Regions from separate parts of the Homo sapiens genome. Here region 2 is linked to region 1. The links come from fine-mapping of genetic effects on gene expression. Tissue or cell type: lung. Region 1 holds a variant in brackets; the other region holds the start of a gene. All regions are shown on one strand. Distances are from middle to middle.

Region 1 (8,246 bases):
GTGCCACGCTTGTACAGGCACATGTGCCAGTTTCGTCATGTCTTTAACTGTATCTTCAACTACTTGCCCCGATCATGTATGTGCAGGCAGCAATTGGTAAGGTTCAATTTCCCACAGACTTCTCCTTCAGCTGCTAGCAAGTAGTCGAGAGTCAATTTATTTTGATAGATAGCATTTCTCATCTGAGTTTCTTGCCGGGCCAGAATAGTCAAGGCTCTGCCGGTCCTATTAGTGATTATTTCTAAGACAGCTTGTAACCGTATGATTTGGTTGAGCATGTAGATGGGGGTCCGGTATCCCCACAAGCCATCTTGTGCCCAAGTAGCAGGCCTATAATATTCCATCATTCTCTCAGGGGGCCATTTATTATCTTTCTTATTTTTTTATAGCTATGCTTCTCTTTTCGCGGGAAACATAGGGAAGCCCAGGAGTTCACCTGTCTTTATAGGCAGTAGGAAGAAAGATGGTTTAATAGTGCCAATCACACAACTGCCTGCCCACTGGTCGGGTAATTTGGTGTAAGGCCTATGCCCACACATTCAGTATAATCCAGTGGGGGCTGTCCAGTCTCGGTGGGACTCCGGATGGGTCCACACGGTTTGCAACTTTGGGAATTTACTAAATGGATTTTTCTTAGTATGGTTTGAACTCCACTAGGTGGCTGTTTTTGTAGTACCATTATACAGTTTTTGCCTAAGGCAGCTGAGTCGTCCTACAGGAAGGGTGAAGTCCTTCCTTACTCTTTTTTTTTTTTTTTTTTTTTTGAGACGGAGTCTTGCTCTGTCACCCAGGCTGGAGTGCAGTGGCGTGATCTCAGCTCACTACAAGCTCTGCCTCCCGGGTTCACGCCATTCTCCTGCCTCAGCCTCCCGAGCAGCTGGGACTACAGGCGCCCGCCACCACGCCTGGCTAATTTTTTATATTTTTAGTAGAGACGGGGTTTCACCGTGTTAGCCAGGATGGTCTCCATCTCCTGACCTTGTGATCCGCCCGCCTCGGCCTCCCAAAGTGCTGGGATTACAGGCGTGAGCCACCGCGCCCGGCCCCTTACTCTTGCTATACAGTATTGTCTAGTGATTGAGGCTTTTAGGACCCGGAAGTTATCAGGGTGATTTTTCTGAGCCAGGAATTCGTCAGGAACTGGGTCTGTAGGTACTAATTCTTGGGCTTCCCGTGGCCATTGGTCTTTTATTATAGTTCCTCCACACACATAGCATGAAGTGACATTGAGAGACTGGGCTACATGGTCAGCTAATTGCAAACAAATTTCTTATTTTTCCTGGAATTTCTGGTGCTGGCACATTCAGTTCATCATAGAAGGTTTGAAATACTGGCTCAGGAGAGCGTTTATAAACTTCTCCTCAAACCACAATATTTACTTGAAGATCCAGTCCAGCCCCATGAATTTCTAGGGTTATGGCCGGGCACGGTAGCTCACGCCTGTAATCCCAGCACTTTGGGAGGCAGAGGCGGGCGGATCACGAGGTCAGGAGATCGAGACCATCCTGGCTAACACGGTGAAACCCCATCTCTACTAAAAATACAAAAAATTAGCCGGGTGTGGTGGCGGGCACCTGTAGTCCCAGCTACTCAGGAGGCTGAGGCAGGAGAATGGCGTGAACCCGGGAGGCAGAGCTCGCAGTGAGCCGAGATCGCTCCACTGCACTCCAGCCTGGGTGACAGACCGAGACTCCATCTCAAAAAAAAAAAAAAATTCTAGGGTTACACATTTCCTTTTTTTCCAGCGAGGATTAAGGGGGTTGGTTATTACTAGTTCTAAGGGGTTACACTGACCACTGGTATAGGAAGGGCCACTTTTCCTTTTCTGAAGGTGGACAGAATTTTTTTCATTTTTTATCCAAGTAGCCTAAATGACACAAGACCAGTAACTACATTCATTTCCACACAGTCCTAACTCATGATAAATGTACTTATTTTCTGCCATACAGCCTCTTTCCTAATGAAGAGAACCACATCCTATTCCTAACTTATTAGTATTAATGACAGCACAGGCATCACACTTCAAGGTGACTTGTTTGGGCACCTCTTTTTGTTTGTTTTTTTTGGCTAACACTTTACTCATATTGTTTATGAGCCCCCACCAGTCTTTAATTCTTAATCTTATTTGAAAAACTGTGGTCATGGGAGGCTCAGATGGGTCATAACACACATCAGGTTGGTCATTTCCTGGGCACATACCTTGTATAGAATAACATTATACAAACAAGTTCTTTTTAGAGTTCCAGTACACTTATAATAACCGTAAAATAATGGGACTGTAGCAACATTTTGTCCTCCCTCAGTGACTTGATGTATACACTAGGAACAGTCCTCAGTCTGAGGAGGGTGAGTTGAAGTCCTTACTGTACAAGTCCAAATTTTAAGGAAAACGAGTCCTGCGATGAGTTTCCTCATGCTTCGGCCGTGCATGGACCAGTCAGCTTCTGGGCGTGACTGGAGCAGGGCTTGTCGTCTTCCTCAGAGTCACTTTGCAGGGGTTGGCGAAGCTGCTGCTATCCACGTACTGCTCACAGTCTACTGATGTTCAAGGATGGTCTCGGAGGTTGCGCCTGCTAGAATAAACTGAGTCCAACACCTCTACACAGTTATGTTCAACTGGGCTCCCCGATACCGGGAGCAAGGTGCTGGGGTTTAGGGTGTTGCAAACTGCAGTGGTTATGTGGGGATTTTCACACAGCAAGCTTTGGTACTTGGTTAATCTAGCATTTGTTAGCCAATGATGTCCTTTGGGATTCATCAAAGTTACCACAGCATGGGGGGCCTTTATATTCAGGTTTTGTCCAAGAGTTAGTTTATCTGCTTCTTGTGCTAACAGGGCCGTTGCTGCCGGGGCCCTTAGACACGGGGGCCAGGCTTTGGAAACCCCCTATAGTTGTTTAGAGAGATAGGCCACTGCCCTTAGCCAGGGCCCCACAGTCTAGGTTAAAACTCCAAATGCCATTTTTTCTCTTTCTGACACATAGAGTGTAAAAGGTTTTGTCACGTCAGGTAGACTCAGGGCTGGGGCCAACAGGAGTTTTTCTTTTAACTCATGAAAAGCTTGTTGCTGTTGGTTGTAATAGATGTAGTTTATCTAATCTACACTTTTATTAACTGTCACCTACTAAAATATTGACGTAAATCCTATAGCTATTTGATTTCAAGCTTTAATTGATCTGGTGTTCCTTGAGGGGCCCCAACTGCATCCAAATAGACGTGAGAGTTGAAAGACCCATAAGGGGCTTCTCTCGCTTTATGACGTCTTATTTTTTCTCCCTCTGGTTGATGAAATGCCAGGGTGAAAGGGATAGCCAAACGGACTAAAGCACAAGTGCCATTCCAGTTATTCAGCAGAGTGCCCAGTAAAGGTCCACCACAATACCACCACACATCCGCACAGGGATGAACAAGGGCTGACTGATTGATAAGCTCTCGAAAATTCTTAAGCTCATCGCATCCCTTCAGGTCTCCAAGGAATGCTGTTTCCTCCCTGTCGTGAGAGACACGAAGTGAACTTAGTGTTGGGAGACAGAAGCTGGATGGCCCTTGCGGGCTGACCCACAGGGTGCTGGATTTCGGGATATAGCAGAGAGAGCTTGGCACGTCTTGTTACTGCAGGCTGTAGAATCCTGGAAAAGAGCTACTATGCAGCCACGCCTGGTCGACTGGCGACCACCTTAGTGGAGGGGGACAATCTGGGCCTCTGGCCTGCCATGTGCACAAGCGTAACAGTTGCTTTTGTTTAATGTGTAGATGGAATATTTGATCCATTTTAACCAGGCATTTGCACCTTGGTATCCTGTCCTAATTGTTAAAGTTTGTTTTAAGTCTTTAACTTCTATGATCCTCTAGTATTCTCCATTCCCCTCTTCTGCAGCCCTAGAAACCACCGTTCTACTTTGTTTCTATGAATCTGGCTACTGTGGATACCTCGTAGAAATGGAATCACACACAGTATTGGTCCTCTTGTGACTGATTATCTCACTCAGCACAATGTCCTCAAGGTTCATCCCTCTTGAAGCGTGTGTCAGAATTGACTTCTTCTTTAAGGCTAATATTCTGCTGTGTGTCCATACCACATTCGGTGTATCCATTTGTCCATTGACGGACTCTTGAGCCGCTGGGAATGGTGCTGCTGTGAACGTAGGGGTGCAAACGTCTGCGTGAGTGCCTGCTTTCACAGCTCTGGGAATATGCCCAGAAGTGGAATGGCCAGGTCACAAGGTCACTCCAGGCACCACACGCCGAGGACCCGCC[G/A]GTCACTCCAGGCACCACACGCCGAGGACCCGACGTCACTCCAGGCACCACACGCCGAGGACCCGCCATGCTGCTCTCCTTAGGAGGTGTACTATGTACTATTTTACATTCCAAACAGCAGCACACAGGGTTCTAGCTTCTCCACAGCCTTGCCAATACCTGTTATTTTTCTGTTTTAAGTTGTTTCTGTTTTGTGTTTGTTTTGTTATTTTAATTGTTTGCCATCCTAATGGGTGTGAGGTGGTATCTCATTGTGGCTTTGATTTGCAGTTCTCTAAGAATGAGTGGTGTGAACATCCTCTCATGTGCTTATTGGGCCATTCTTTTCTTTACTTTTTTTTTTTTTTTTTTGAGACGGAGTCTCACTTTGTCGCCCAGGCTGGAGTACAGTGGCGTGATCTCAGCTCACTACAACTTCCACCTCCTGGGTTCAAGCAATTCTCCTGCCTCAGCCTCCCGAGTAGCTGGGATTACAGGCACCCACCACCACGCCCCGCTAATTTCGTATTTTTAGTAGAGACAAGGGTTTATCCATGTTGGTCAGGCTGGTCTCGAACTCCCAACCTCAGGTGATCCGCCCACCTTGGCCTCCCAAAGTGCTAGGATTAGAGGTGTGAGCTACCACGCCCAGCCTATTGGGCCATTCTTGGGAGAGAGGTCTAATTAGTCCTTTGCCTATTTTTGAATCAGGTTGTTTTTGGGGAGTCGTTTTCTGGAGTGTTCCATGGTAAGTAGGTCTATGTAAACCTGTCTCCAAAGTCCGAGGAAGCTGAGAGGTCAAAGAAAAAGGCTAACAAACCCAGTTTCTTAGAAAGAAACACTTAACAGGGACTTAGAAAAAGAAGCCATGTCTGTCTTGGCAGCGGCAAGAGGAGATACTGGATCCCACCATTGCCCCCGCCCAGGGCTTGTGTACCACGGGGAGGGTTGGGAGGGAAGTGCAGGACAATGGGCGGCATCAGGGCCGTCTGACCCTGCGGCAGGGTTTATAGCAAGTGCCTGCCCTTACACAAGGAACAACAGATCACCTGGAAACGTCGGAGGCCTTCCCTGGACGGGTTAGTCGAAAGCCCACACAATAGTCACCATCCAGGCTGGAGCGGCTTTGGCCTCCACAAGGAGTTCCTTCGATATTTTGGATATGAGTCCCTCATCGGACACGTGATTTGCAGATATTCTCCCGTTCTGTGGGGAAGGGGCAGCTTTTCACTCTTTTAGGAGTGTCCTTTGATGAACAAAAGGCTTTAATTTTCACGAAGCCATTTGGCTGTTTGTTGTTGTTGCCTGTACCTTTGGTGTCCAAGGAATCATTGCCAAACCCAGTGTGTGTCAAAAGCTTCTGCTCCCAGTTTCTAACAAGAGTTTACTGTTTCAGGTCTTGCATCCAGATCTTTGATCCATTTTTACTTTTTATTTTACTTTATTTACTTATTTTTTTGAGACAGTCTTGCTCTGTTGCCCAGGCTGGAGTGCAGTGGCGTGATCTCGGCTCACTGCAACCTCTGCCTCCCGGGTTTAAGGGATTCTCCCACCTCGGTCTCCCAAGTAGCTGGGATTTCAGGTGTGCACCACCACACCTGGCTAATTTTTTTTTGTATTTTTAGTAGAGACAGGGTTTCACCATGTTGGCCAGGCTGGTCTCGAACTCCCGACCTCAGGTGATCCACTCTCCTCAGCCTCCCAAAGTGCTGGGATTACAGGTACAAGCGGTGCAAGCCACGGTGCCCAGCATGATCCATTTCTAGTTAATTTTTGTATGTGGTACTGACGAGGGTCCAACTTCATTCTCTTGCATGTATCACACTTTCCCAGCAACAGCCACTGTAACCTCTACCTCGTGGGCTGAAGCCATCCTCCCGCCTGAGCCCACCACGTAGCTGGGCCTGCAGGAGTGCATCACCACACCTGGCTAACTTTTCAAAATTTTTTGTAGAGACAGGTCTCAATATGGTGCCCAGGCTGATCTGAAATTCCTGACCTCAAGCAATCCTCCAACCTTGGCCTCCCCAAGTGCTGGGATTACAGGCATGAGCCATGGTGCACCCTGGCCCCACCAGGAGATTGTATATCCATGGGTACTGGTGACACTGGGCCTCAATAGAACAATTCCATATATACTGTATATGATTCCATTCACAGGACATTCTTGAAAAGATGGAATTACAGAAATGGGCCAGGCACTGTGGCTCATGCCTGTAATCCCAGCACTTTGGGAGGCTAAGCGAGGTAGGCGGATCACCTGAGGTCAGGAGTTCCAGACCAGCCTGGCCAACATGGTGAAACCTCGTCTCTACTAAGAATACAAAAATTAGCCAGGCATGGTGCATGCCTGTAATCCCAGCTACTTGGGAGGCTTGGGAAAATCTCTTGAACCTGAAAGGTGGAGGTTGCAGTGAGCTAAGATCGCGCCACTGCACTCCAGCCTGGGCAACAGAACAAGACTGTCAAAAAAAAAGAAAGAAAAGAAAAAGAAAGAAAGAGAGAAAGAGAGAGGGGAGGGAAGGAAGGAAGGAAGGGAGGAAGGAAGGAGAAAAAAAGAAAAGAAAAGGAAAGGACAAGAAAAGAAAAAAGAATTACAGAAATGGACAGAACAGATGAATGGTTGCCAGCCCTGAAGGAGGGTTGGAGGGAGGGAGTGGGTGTGGCTGTGGAAGGGTGAGGACCATATCCTGACTCTGTGAACATCAATACCCCAGCTGTGTGCACTGCAGGGTTCCAGGTGCTACCACTGAGGGAGGTAAAGGGTGCCCAGCATCTCTCTGTAAAACACCTTACAGCTGCATGCAAATCTAAAATTATCACAAAAAGCTTAATTAAAAATAAATAAACGTGTTCCTGCCTAGCTGCCTGGTCTAATTAAATTAGGGTGGGTGCATGTGGGACCTGGCTGCCGCAAGTGACGCCAGTCCATAACCGGGGCTGACACCATTGCCTCTGGGGTCCCCACCAGGTCCCCCGCCCTGCGCAAGGCACAGGTTACCTTTACTGCTAAGGTTCTAACTATGTGAACCCCTTCTAAAGGGCGAGCCAGGGAGAGAGGCCCCAGAGGGCCGGCACTCTCCCGAAACCAGCTAGGAGAGGATGCGGACACCACACAGAAGGCCCATCGCACCCCTTTGGTAAACCGTAAGTCTCATAATCCCAGCAGTTCAGGAGGCCGAGGTGGGTGGATCACCTGAGGTCAGGAGTTCAAGACCACCCTGGCCAACATGGTGAAATCCTGTCTCTACTAAAAATACAAAAATTCGTCGGGCATGGTGGCGTGCACCTGTAATCACAGCTACTCAGGAGGCTGAGGCAGGAGAATCGCTTCAACCCAGGAGGCAGAGGTTGCAGTGAGCCGAGATCTCACCACTGCACTCCAGCCTGAGTGACAAGAGTGAAACTCTGTCTCAAAAAAAAAAAAACCCTTAACTAATGGGTACAAAAAAATTAGAAAGAATAAGACCTAGTATTTGATAGCACAACAGGGTGACTATATTCAATAATAATTTAATTGTACATTTTAAAGTAACAGAGTATAATCGGATTGTTTGTAACGCAAAGGATAAATGCTTGAGGGGATGGATACCCCACTATCCATGATGTGACTATTACACTTTGCACGCCTGTATCAAAACGTATACCCCATGGGAGGCTGAGGCAGGTGGATCACTTGAGGCCCGGAGTTCGAGACCAGCCTGGCCAACATGATGAAACCCCGTCTGTACTAAAAATGCAAAAATTAGCCAAGTGTGGCGGTGCTCGTCTGTAGTCCCAGCTACTCGGGGGCTGAGGCAGGAGAATCACTTGAACCTGAGAGGCGGAGCTTGCAGTGGACTGAAATCACGCCACTGCACTCCGGCCTGGGTGACAGAGTGAGACTCTGTCTCAAAAAAAAAAAAAAAAGAAACAAAAACATGTACCCCATAAATACGTACGCCTACTATGTGCCCACAAAAATTCAAAACAACGCAAAACAAAACCTCTTAACACCAAATCCTAAAACT
Region 2 (8,000 bases), 96 kb after region 1:
ATTGGACACCAGTCAGATTGGATTAGCCCCCTGCCCCTCAGTGACAGTTACCTCTGCAAAGGCCCTGTCTCCAAATAAGGTCACATCCTAAGATACCGGGGGATAAGACTCCAGCATGTGGATTTGGAAGGACATTATTCAGCCCATGGCAGGGGCCCAGTCTCATCTTGGATTTGGGGTGGGAGTGCTCAGCAGACACTGGGGTTTCAGAACTGCAGGGTTTCTGGTAGCGTGGTGCTGGCACAGGGTTACAGGCATGGGTCTGGCTCTGAAGTGTTTGCCTTTGGCATCCCCCAAGTCCCTGAGGGGCTCTCTGAGGCCCGCTGTGACTGCACTGGGTGACCTGAGCCTGCCCGTTGAAGCTGTGCTCAGGGATTCTGATGCCTGGCATCCCTAGTCCCCCCTGAGTCAGCATCAAAGGAGGGGACTCTCCCTGTGTCCTGAGTGCTGTGGGCTCTGGCCTAGTGGCCCGCAGAGCCAGGCAGTGGTGAGACGGCCCCCGCTGCTCATCATGCAGCCCGGGGCCAGTGCTGACTTAGTGCCTCTTCCAGAGGGGACCTTTTCCCTGTCCTTGGGCCTGCTGTGTGGGGTGCATGAGGCCTCAGGTGCCACTCACAGACTCCGGCCTCCTCAGGACCCAGCCCCACTCCCGCGGGAGGTCTGCTGTGATTCTCCATGCCCCCTGGCGCCCCAAAGCCTGGCCCTCCCGTGCTCCGGCTTCTGCCCCCGAGTTTGTCAGTTTCTGCCGGTGCCTCCCGTACCCCCACCACCATTCACGCGCCTCTGCCAGCCTGGCCTTTCCCTGTCCATTTCCTCCTGGCCTTGCTGCCAGGTGGGCCTCCTGGGCCAGTTTGGCTCGGCCTTGCCCATGATCTGCGGGGCTTAGCTCCCACACCCTCCAGATACATAAACAAGCATTCCCCACAGCATGGTCCCAAGGACGGTGGCAGGAGGGCCCCAGGGATGGGTTTGCACGTTGGGCAAAGGCCTGAGTATGTCCGCACCTGCTGCAAGGAGCGGCTTTGCCTGCCCGGCTACTCCAGGCCCCTCCCCACAGAGAGGGAGCCCCGGGGAGCTGCCGAGATGGGGTTTGCTGAGAGCTCCATGCAGCCAGGTGCACCCTGTCCTTCGAGCCATCCTGTTGGAGGGTGGGCAGGCTAAATGGCCCATGCGTGCAGGTAGATGCTTAAGGACTGGCTAGTGTTAAGGGCCAGGAGGCTGGGATCCTGTCTGGGCCCCGAGGTATCAGTCTCAGCTATGGCAGAGTATGAGGTGGGCTTGGGGCCCTGGATCACCTAGAGACTGGCTTGCTGAGTGAGATGGCAGGCGTGAGGCCCAGGGAGACAAAGCTTTGGGTGGCTGCTGTCCACACAGGTGGGCTCCTTCCTTCTTCCCCCACTGGGCCCTCAGCTGCTCCCGCCTCCCATTTCCAGTGCTGCCTGGTCCCCTGAGGCGTGTCCCAGGTTGTCCCTAGGACTGTGAGTCCTTCAGCACCTCCCACCCAGCCTCTGAGCCTGGCTGCTCAGCAGGATTCCGCCGGGCAGCAGCAGCCATGGCCCAGCTCCCCACAGCCTCCGTCTCTGGGGCACCAAGAGCCTCCTGTCCTGGACTTTGCCTGGCTGAGAATTTCACTGTGGTCTGTGGTGGCCGCCACCTCTGAGGTCATAAGTTTGAGCTGGGCATCAGCGGGGGGCACCTCCTGCTCTCCCGAGCTGTAGTTTTCCTTCCGTGAGTTCCTGCAGTCCTGAGCATGGCAGGGGGACCCTAGGAGCAGGCTGGGCACTGAGCCCTCCCCTCCTCCTGCCTTGCAGAGCTCAGGCCCCGGGGCCTCCAGCGGCACCAGCGGAGACCACGGTGAGCTCGTCGTCCGGATTGCCAGTCTGGAAGTGGAGAACCAGAGTCTGCGTGGCGGTGAGGCCCCGGGCCAGTGGGTTGGGGCTGTCCCTGGCCCCTGCCATCTAACCGTGCTCCCCTTGCCCCCCCAGTGGTACAGGAGCTGCAGCAGGCCATCTCCAAGCTGGAGGCCCGGCTGAACGTGCTGGAGAAGAGCTCGCCTGGCCACCGGGCCACGGCCCCACAGACCCAGGTGAATGCTCTCCCCACGCCTGACACTGCAGGGGACCACGTGGCCCTGCTGGCTTCCACGTCGCCCTGTGGGCTGGCCCCAGCAGCAGTGATGAGCTGGCAGCCAGGATACTGGAGTCCTCAGGTCCCCAGGAAGGTTTACAGTTAGCCCTGGGCAGGTGGAGGCAGTTTTTGTCTTTCCTGGGGCCCTGCATGTACACAGCTGCGGTACACAGGGGCTGCCCTTCCTCCAGTCAAAGGAGGGAGGAGGGCCAGGAGGTGGCCAGGCAGCTCTGGGCCCTGGTTGGGGCGTCTCAGCCGTGCCTCCTGTCCCTTCCCCTGTGGCAGCACGTATCTCCCATGCGCCAAGTGGAGCCCCCAGCCAAGAAGCCAGCCACACCAGCAGAGGATGACGAGGATGATGACATTGACCTGTTTGGCAGTGACAATGAGGAGGAGGACAAGGAGGCGGCACAGCTGCGGGAGGAGCGGCTACGGCAGTACGCGGAGAAGAAGGCCAAGAAGCCTGCACTGGTGGCCAAGTCCTCCATCCTGCTGGATGTCAAGCCTGTGAGTGGGCGGGGTGGGGCTTCAGGGGGCCAGGCACTGCCCTGGTGCCCGCCTAGCCGGCTCAGCCTGTGACCCTCCCCCTGCCCTCTGGGTTCTGGGGAGACTTTAAAGCCGAGTTTAGAAGTCTTGGGATAAACACAAACTTGGAGGCAGGAAGGTGTGAATTTGGATTGTTTTCTGTGGGCCCTTTAAGGAAACAGAATTGTGGACACACAGTGGTTGAGGGTAGGGTGCATGCAGGTACTTCCTGGGTGTTCTGAGGGTGGCTGACCCCAGCTTTTCCTCCCCTTTCCCCACAGTGGGATGATGAGACGGACATGGCCCAGCTGGAGGCCTGTGTGCGCTCTATCCAGCTGGACGGGCTGGTCTGGGGGGCTTCCAAGCTGGTGCCCGTGGGCTACGGTATCCGGAAGCTACAGATTCAGTGTGTGGTGGAGGACGACAAGGTGGGGACAGACTTGCTGGAGGAGGAGATCACCAAGTTTGAGGAGCACGTGAGTGAGCCGGCCGGGGAGAGGAGGGGAGAGGAGACTGGGGACCCTGGCCCATACCCTGCACTCCACCCCACGGCAGTGGGGAGCGAGTCCCAGAGTGAACCCCACCTCAGAGGAGGCTCCTGGCTCCGAGTGGGCTGTAGGGGAACAGCCCTGACCGTCACCCTCCGCCTCTCCTCAGGTGCAGAGTGTCGATATCGCAGCTTTCAACAAGATCTGAAGCCTGAGTGTGTGTACGTGCGCGCGTGCGTGAGGCCCTGCCACGATTAAAGACTGAGACCGGCCCTCTGGCTCCGTCCTGGTCATTTCCTGCTCGTACCTGGCCTGTCTCCCTCCCTGTCTCAGCCCCATCTCTGCCCTGCTGTTCCCACACAGTCATCCTGGCTGCTGCCACCCTCTGTGGCCATGTCACCTTGCCCCCAGCAGACCTCCGCCTGTCCCTCCATCTCCTGGCCACTCCCTCCCAAAGCTCTGGCCCTCCCTCTTCTTTCCATTGCAAAAGCAAGTCCAGTTCAGGGGGTTTAAAAAGCCAGAAACAGAAACTGTTAGGTCACTATCTGGAGAGGCCACCACCCCACCACTCTGCCTCCTGTTGGCATTGTCCCCATGGGAGCAAGCGTGCAAGCCTGGAATTGTCCAGGAAAGAAGTCCCAGTAGCACCCGGCCCTGCTGCCATGCCCTTTGTCATGTGCTGTCCCGGCCCTCCCCTCACCTCATTCATTCCTGGAATCCCTGCCCCTTGCTCCAGGGACTGTGCCCCTCCCATGATGTTCTGGGGTGGCCAGAACGTGGCTGCCTGGGCTCTGTGGAGCTGTGCCTCAGCATCCTGACAGCCGTATGTGGTCAGCATGGGTGGCCACACTCCCTCCCCTGGACCACCCGTGTTTGCATTGGGGTGAAAGAGGATGGGGTGTAATTACTTGATTACTTCTGGTCAGACTCTGTCCTCGGGGCCCCAAGCCACAGGGGAATGGATTCTCCCTGGGTAGTGGCCCCTGACTTTGCCCTCAAACCTTTAGAAAGTTTCCTGTGGGGCTTGGACTGCAGGACCCCATAAAAGCCACCACTGAGGGACACTGGGCCTTCATAGCCACAAAAGGTCTTTTGGTGCCAGCCGACAGTGGGCATGCGCCCCCCTGCCCCACGCCGCCCTTTCCTGGGTGCCAAGCTCTTTCCAAGCGACATTTGCGTCCATCTGGGCTGCCTCGTCCTAGCCTGGCTGCTCAAGCTCTAACTAAGGCAGCCTCTGGCCTCCCTCCCCAGGCCCAGGGCAGGAGCTGGCTGCTGGCCAGCGGTTGTCTTCTGGGTCGGTGGGGGTGGAGTCTGGCTGGTCTGTCCTCCACCCTTTCCGCCGCCTGGCAAGTCCTGAGCTGCACCTCATTGCCCGGCCAAAGGGCAGAGACACGAGCGACTGGGGGCACCTCTGGTGACCAAGACCGGGCTGCGCTCCAAAGAGGCCGTTGGGCCTGGAGTGGGGTTGGGGGGTCCGAGAGGAGTTGGGTGACATCCCCCACCCCATCCCGGGTCCAGCTGTTTCAGCCCCTCTCGGCGCGCCGATACTATTAGCCCCACCCGTCCTCCATCGAGTCCCGTGCCGCTCCCAAACGGCACGATAAGCCCCACAGGGAGTGCGCCATAGGCCGGGGCGCGTCACGGGGTCGGGGCGGGGCGGAGTCCGGACGTCGGGAGCAGGATGGCGGCGGAGCAGGACCCCGAGGCGCGCGCGGCGGCGCGGCCGCTGCTCACTGACCTCTACCAGGCCACCATGGCGTTGGGCTATTGGCGCGCGGGCCGGGCGCGGGACGCCGCCGAGTTCGAGCTCTTCTTCCGCCGCTGCCCGTTCGGCGGCGCCTTCGCCTTGGCCGCCGGCTTGCGCGACTGTGTGCGCTTCCTGCGCGCCTTCCGCCTGCGGGACGCCGGTAGTCCCCCGTCCGCGCGACGAGCCCCCCACGCCCGGCAGAAACCCCCACCTATGGCCGGTGGAAGTCCTTGTCCCCCCGTGGAACCCCCCATGTCCCACGACCGGTCTGTCCCCGCGCTGGTCTCAGCGCAGTTACCTCGTTTCCAGACGTGCAGTTCCTGGCCTCGGTGCTGCCCCCAGACACGGATCCTGCGTTCTTCGAGCACCTTCGGGCCCTCGACTGCTCCGAGGTGACGGTGCGAGCCCTGCCCGAGGGCTCCCTCGCCTTCCCCGGAGTGAGTAGGGGTAAGCGGGCGGCGCGGCGGCCACGGGGTGCTGGGCCGAGCGCGGAGCTGACTTCTCTCCCCGCAGGTGCCGCTCCTGCAGGTGTCCGGGCCGCTCCTGGTGGTGCAGCTGCTGGAGACACCGCTGCTCTGCCTGGTCAGCTACGCCAGGTGGGCTGCGGGCCACTGGCAGGGAGCGTGGGCATGGGATGGGCCCCCAGCGCCGGGGCTCCGTGCTGGACTGTGGCGGCGGGGCTGGCTGCCCAGGGGTCCCAGGACTGGCCTCCCGCCCCCACTCTTCAGGGTGTAAGGAGGGGCTGGGTGAGGGTGGAGCTCCCAGGTTGGAAGTTCCAGGCCCCAGGTAACCGCCGTCTTGGGTGGCCTAGTGATCCTCACCCTGGGACCCCCTGACTCTTGGCTCCCCACAGCCTGGTGGCCACCAACGCAGCGCGGCTTCGCTTGATCGCAGGGCCAGAGAAGCGGCTGCTAGAGATGGGCCTGAGGCGGGCTCAGGGCCCCGATGGGGGCCTGACAGCCTCCACCTACAGCTACCTGGGCGGTGAGTGTCTGGTGCGGGGCAAGGCAAGGGCCGGGAAGGAGGAGCCCCATCTTGGCCCGAGGTCCCCCAATCCCACCGCCTTCCTCCCCAGGCTTCGACAGCAGCAGCAACGTGCTAGCGGGCCAGCTGCGAGGTGTGCCGGTGGCCGGGACCCTGGCCCACTCCTTCGTCACTTCCTTTTCAGGCAGCGAGGTGCCCCCTGACCCGGTCAGTCCCTCCTCTAAACCCTGCTGTCTCCAGGCGACAGGCCCCAAGCCAGCCCTTGCCCTGGCGAGAGGTGTGCCACCCAGGCAGGTCACCCCAGTGCTGTCCCAGGAAGCTGGCACGGGCTGCATTACCTTTGCTCTCAAACTAGGGTGTCCCTGGCTGCTCCCAGGCCTCATCCTGCATTCCTGGCCCCCATTCTTCACCGACTCTGTTCCACAGATGTTGGCGCCAGCAGCTGGTGAGGGCCCTGGGGTGGACCTGGCGGCCAAAGCCCAGGTGTGGCTGGAGCAGGTGTGTGCCCACCTGGGGCTGGGGGTGCAGGAGCCGCATCCAGGCGAGCGGGCAGCCTTTGTGGCCTATGCCTTGGCTTTTCCCCGGGCCTTCCAGGGCCTCCTGGACACCTACAGCGTGTGGAGGTGAGCCCGGGCACTTTAGGGGTGGGCTCAGCAGAACCTCAGCAGCCTCTGACTCCCTTATCTATTTCTGCAGGAGTGGTCTCCCCAACTTCCTAGCAGTCGCCCTGGCCCTGGGAGAGCTGGGCTACCGGGCAGTGGGCGTGAGGCTGGACAGTGGTGACCTGCTACAGCAGGCTCAGGAGATCCGCAAGGTCTTCCGAGCTGCTGCAGCCCAGTGAGTTTCCCGGGGAGGAGGTGTGCCTGGTGGGAGATCCCCGGGGTTTGGGAATGGGCAGGGAAGGACAGTGAGGTACTCTGCTGAAGTTTCAGCGGTGATACTGCAGGCCGTGGCAGGGAAGTAAGTGGTGGGGCTCCCTAGGAGCTCCCAAGCAGAAGGTGAGCACAGGTGTCCTTGACTGAGGCGGGGCGGGGAGCAGGGGGACACCAGGGTGAATCAGGAAGACCCGAGGGGTGGCCCCCACCCTTTCTCCACCCACGCGGCAGGTTCCAGGTGCCCTGGCTGGAGTCAGTCCTCATCGTAGTCAGCAACAACATTGACGAGGAGGCGCTGGCCCGACTGGCCCAGGAGGTGGGGTGGATGAGTGGGTAGGCGGAGGGTGGCTGGGGGGCTCTGGGGGCCCCTGCAGGTTCTGGCTGGGCTCATTGCCACCTCCTTCCCCGCCCAGGGCACTGCCACCCCCTTCCCCACCCAGGGCACTGCCACCTCCTTCCCCCACCCAGGGCACTGCCACCCCCTTCCCCACCCAGGGCACTGCCACCCCCTTCACCCAGGGCAGTGCCACCTCCTTCCCCACCTAGGGCACTGGCACCTCCTTCCCCACCCAGGGCACTGCCACCCCCTTCCCCACCCAGGGCAGTGCCACCTCCTTCCCCACCCAGGGCAGTGCCACCCCCTTCCCCACCCAGGGCAGCTGGGCTCACGGCCACCCCCTTCCCCACCCAGGGCAGTGAGGTGAATGTCATTGGCATTGGCACCAGTGTGGTCACCTGCCCCCAACAGCCTTCCCTGGGTGGCGTCTATAAGGTAGGGACAGTGTCGGGGGCCCAGGTGGGGGCAGGTCTGAGGGATGGTGCTGGGTGGGGGATAAGGACCAGCCAGCTCAACGCCCTCTTCCTGCAGCTGGTGGCCGTGGGGGGCCAGCCACGAATGAAGCTGACCGAGGACCCCGAGAAGCAGACGTTGCCTGGGAGCAAGGCTGCTTTCCGGCTCCTGGGCTCTGACGGTGAGGCCCTCCCATCCCCCCTGCTGTCCACCTTCAAAGCACCAGGGCCCCCGCTTATTCTTGCCCCGTCCACACAGGGTCTCCACTCATGGACATGCTGCAGTTAGCAGAAGAGCCAGTGCCACAGGCTGGGCAGGAGCTGAGGGTGTGGCCTCCAGGGGCCCAGGAGCCCTGCACCGTGAGGCCAGCCCAGGTGGAGCCACTACTGCGGCTCTGCCTCCAGCAGGGACAGGTGGCTGCCCCACCGCCCTCATCCTGACCCCCAGCCCCGGTAGAGCCCTGA

What was found. PIP is the estimated chance that this variant, and not a neighbour inherited with it, causes the effect.
Region 2: NAPRT starts here. The variant in region 1 is fine-mapped to the expression of NAPRT in lung (TOPMed, PIP 0.97).

Annotation. Positions count from the first base shown.
Region 1 is chr8:143,671,075-143,679,320 of GRCh38, reverse strand. No RefSeq gene overlaps it. Among named protein-coding and RNA genes, the nearest start is that of ZNF707, 9.3 kb to the left of the region's middle. The variant G/A (reference allele first, on the strand shown) is at 4,258.
Region 2 is chr8:143,575,140-143,583,139 of GRCh38, reverse strand. It overlaps NAPRT (nicotinate phosphoribosyltransferase), which reads left to right and starts at 4,810. Exons shown (of 13, transcript NM_145201.6): 1 at 4,810-5,047; 2 at 5,197-5,324; 3 at 5,401-5,483; 4 at 5,741-5,871; 5 at 5,963-6,078; 6 at 6,298-6,494; 7 at 6,568-6,708; 8 at 6,978-7,062; 9 at 7,438-7,518; 10 at 7,615-7,717; 11 at 7,795-7,949. The coding sequence starts at 4,822. It overlaps EEF1D (eukaryotic translation elongation factor 1 delta), which reads left to right. Exons shown (of 10, transcript NM_001130053.5): 6 at 1,812-1,911; 7 at 1,986-2,086; 8 at 2,413-2,634; 9 at 2,934-3,128; 10 at 3,310-3,412. The coding sequence ends at 3,348. RefSeq lists enhancers at 3,586-4,494, 4,495-5,402.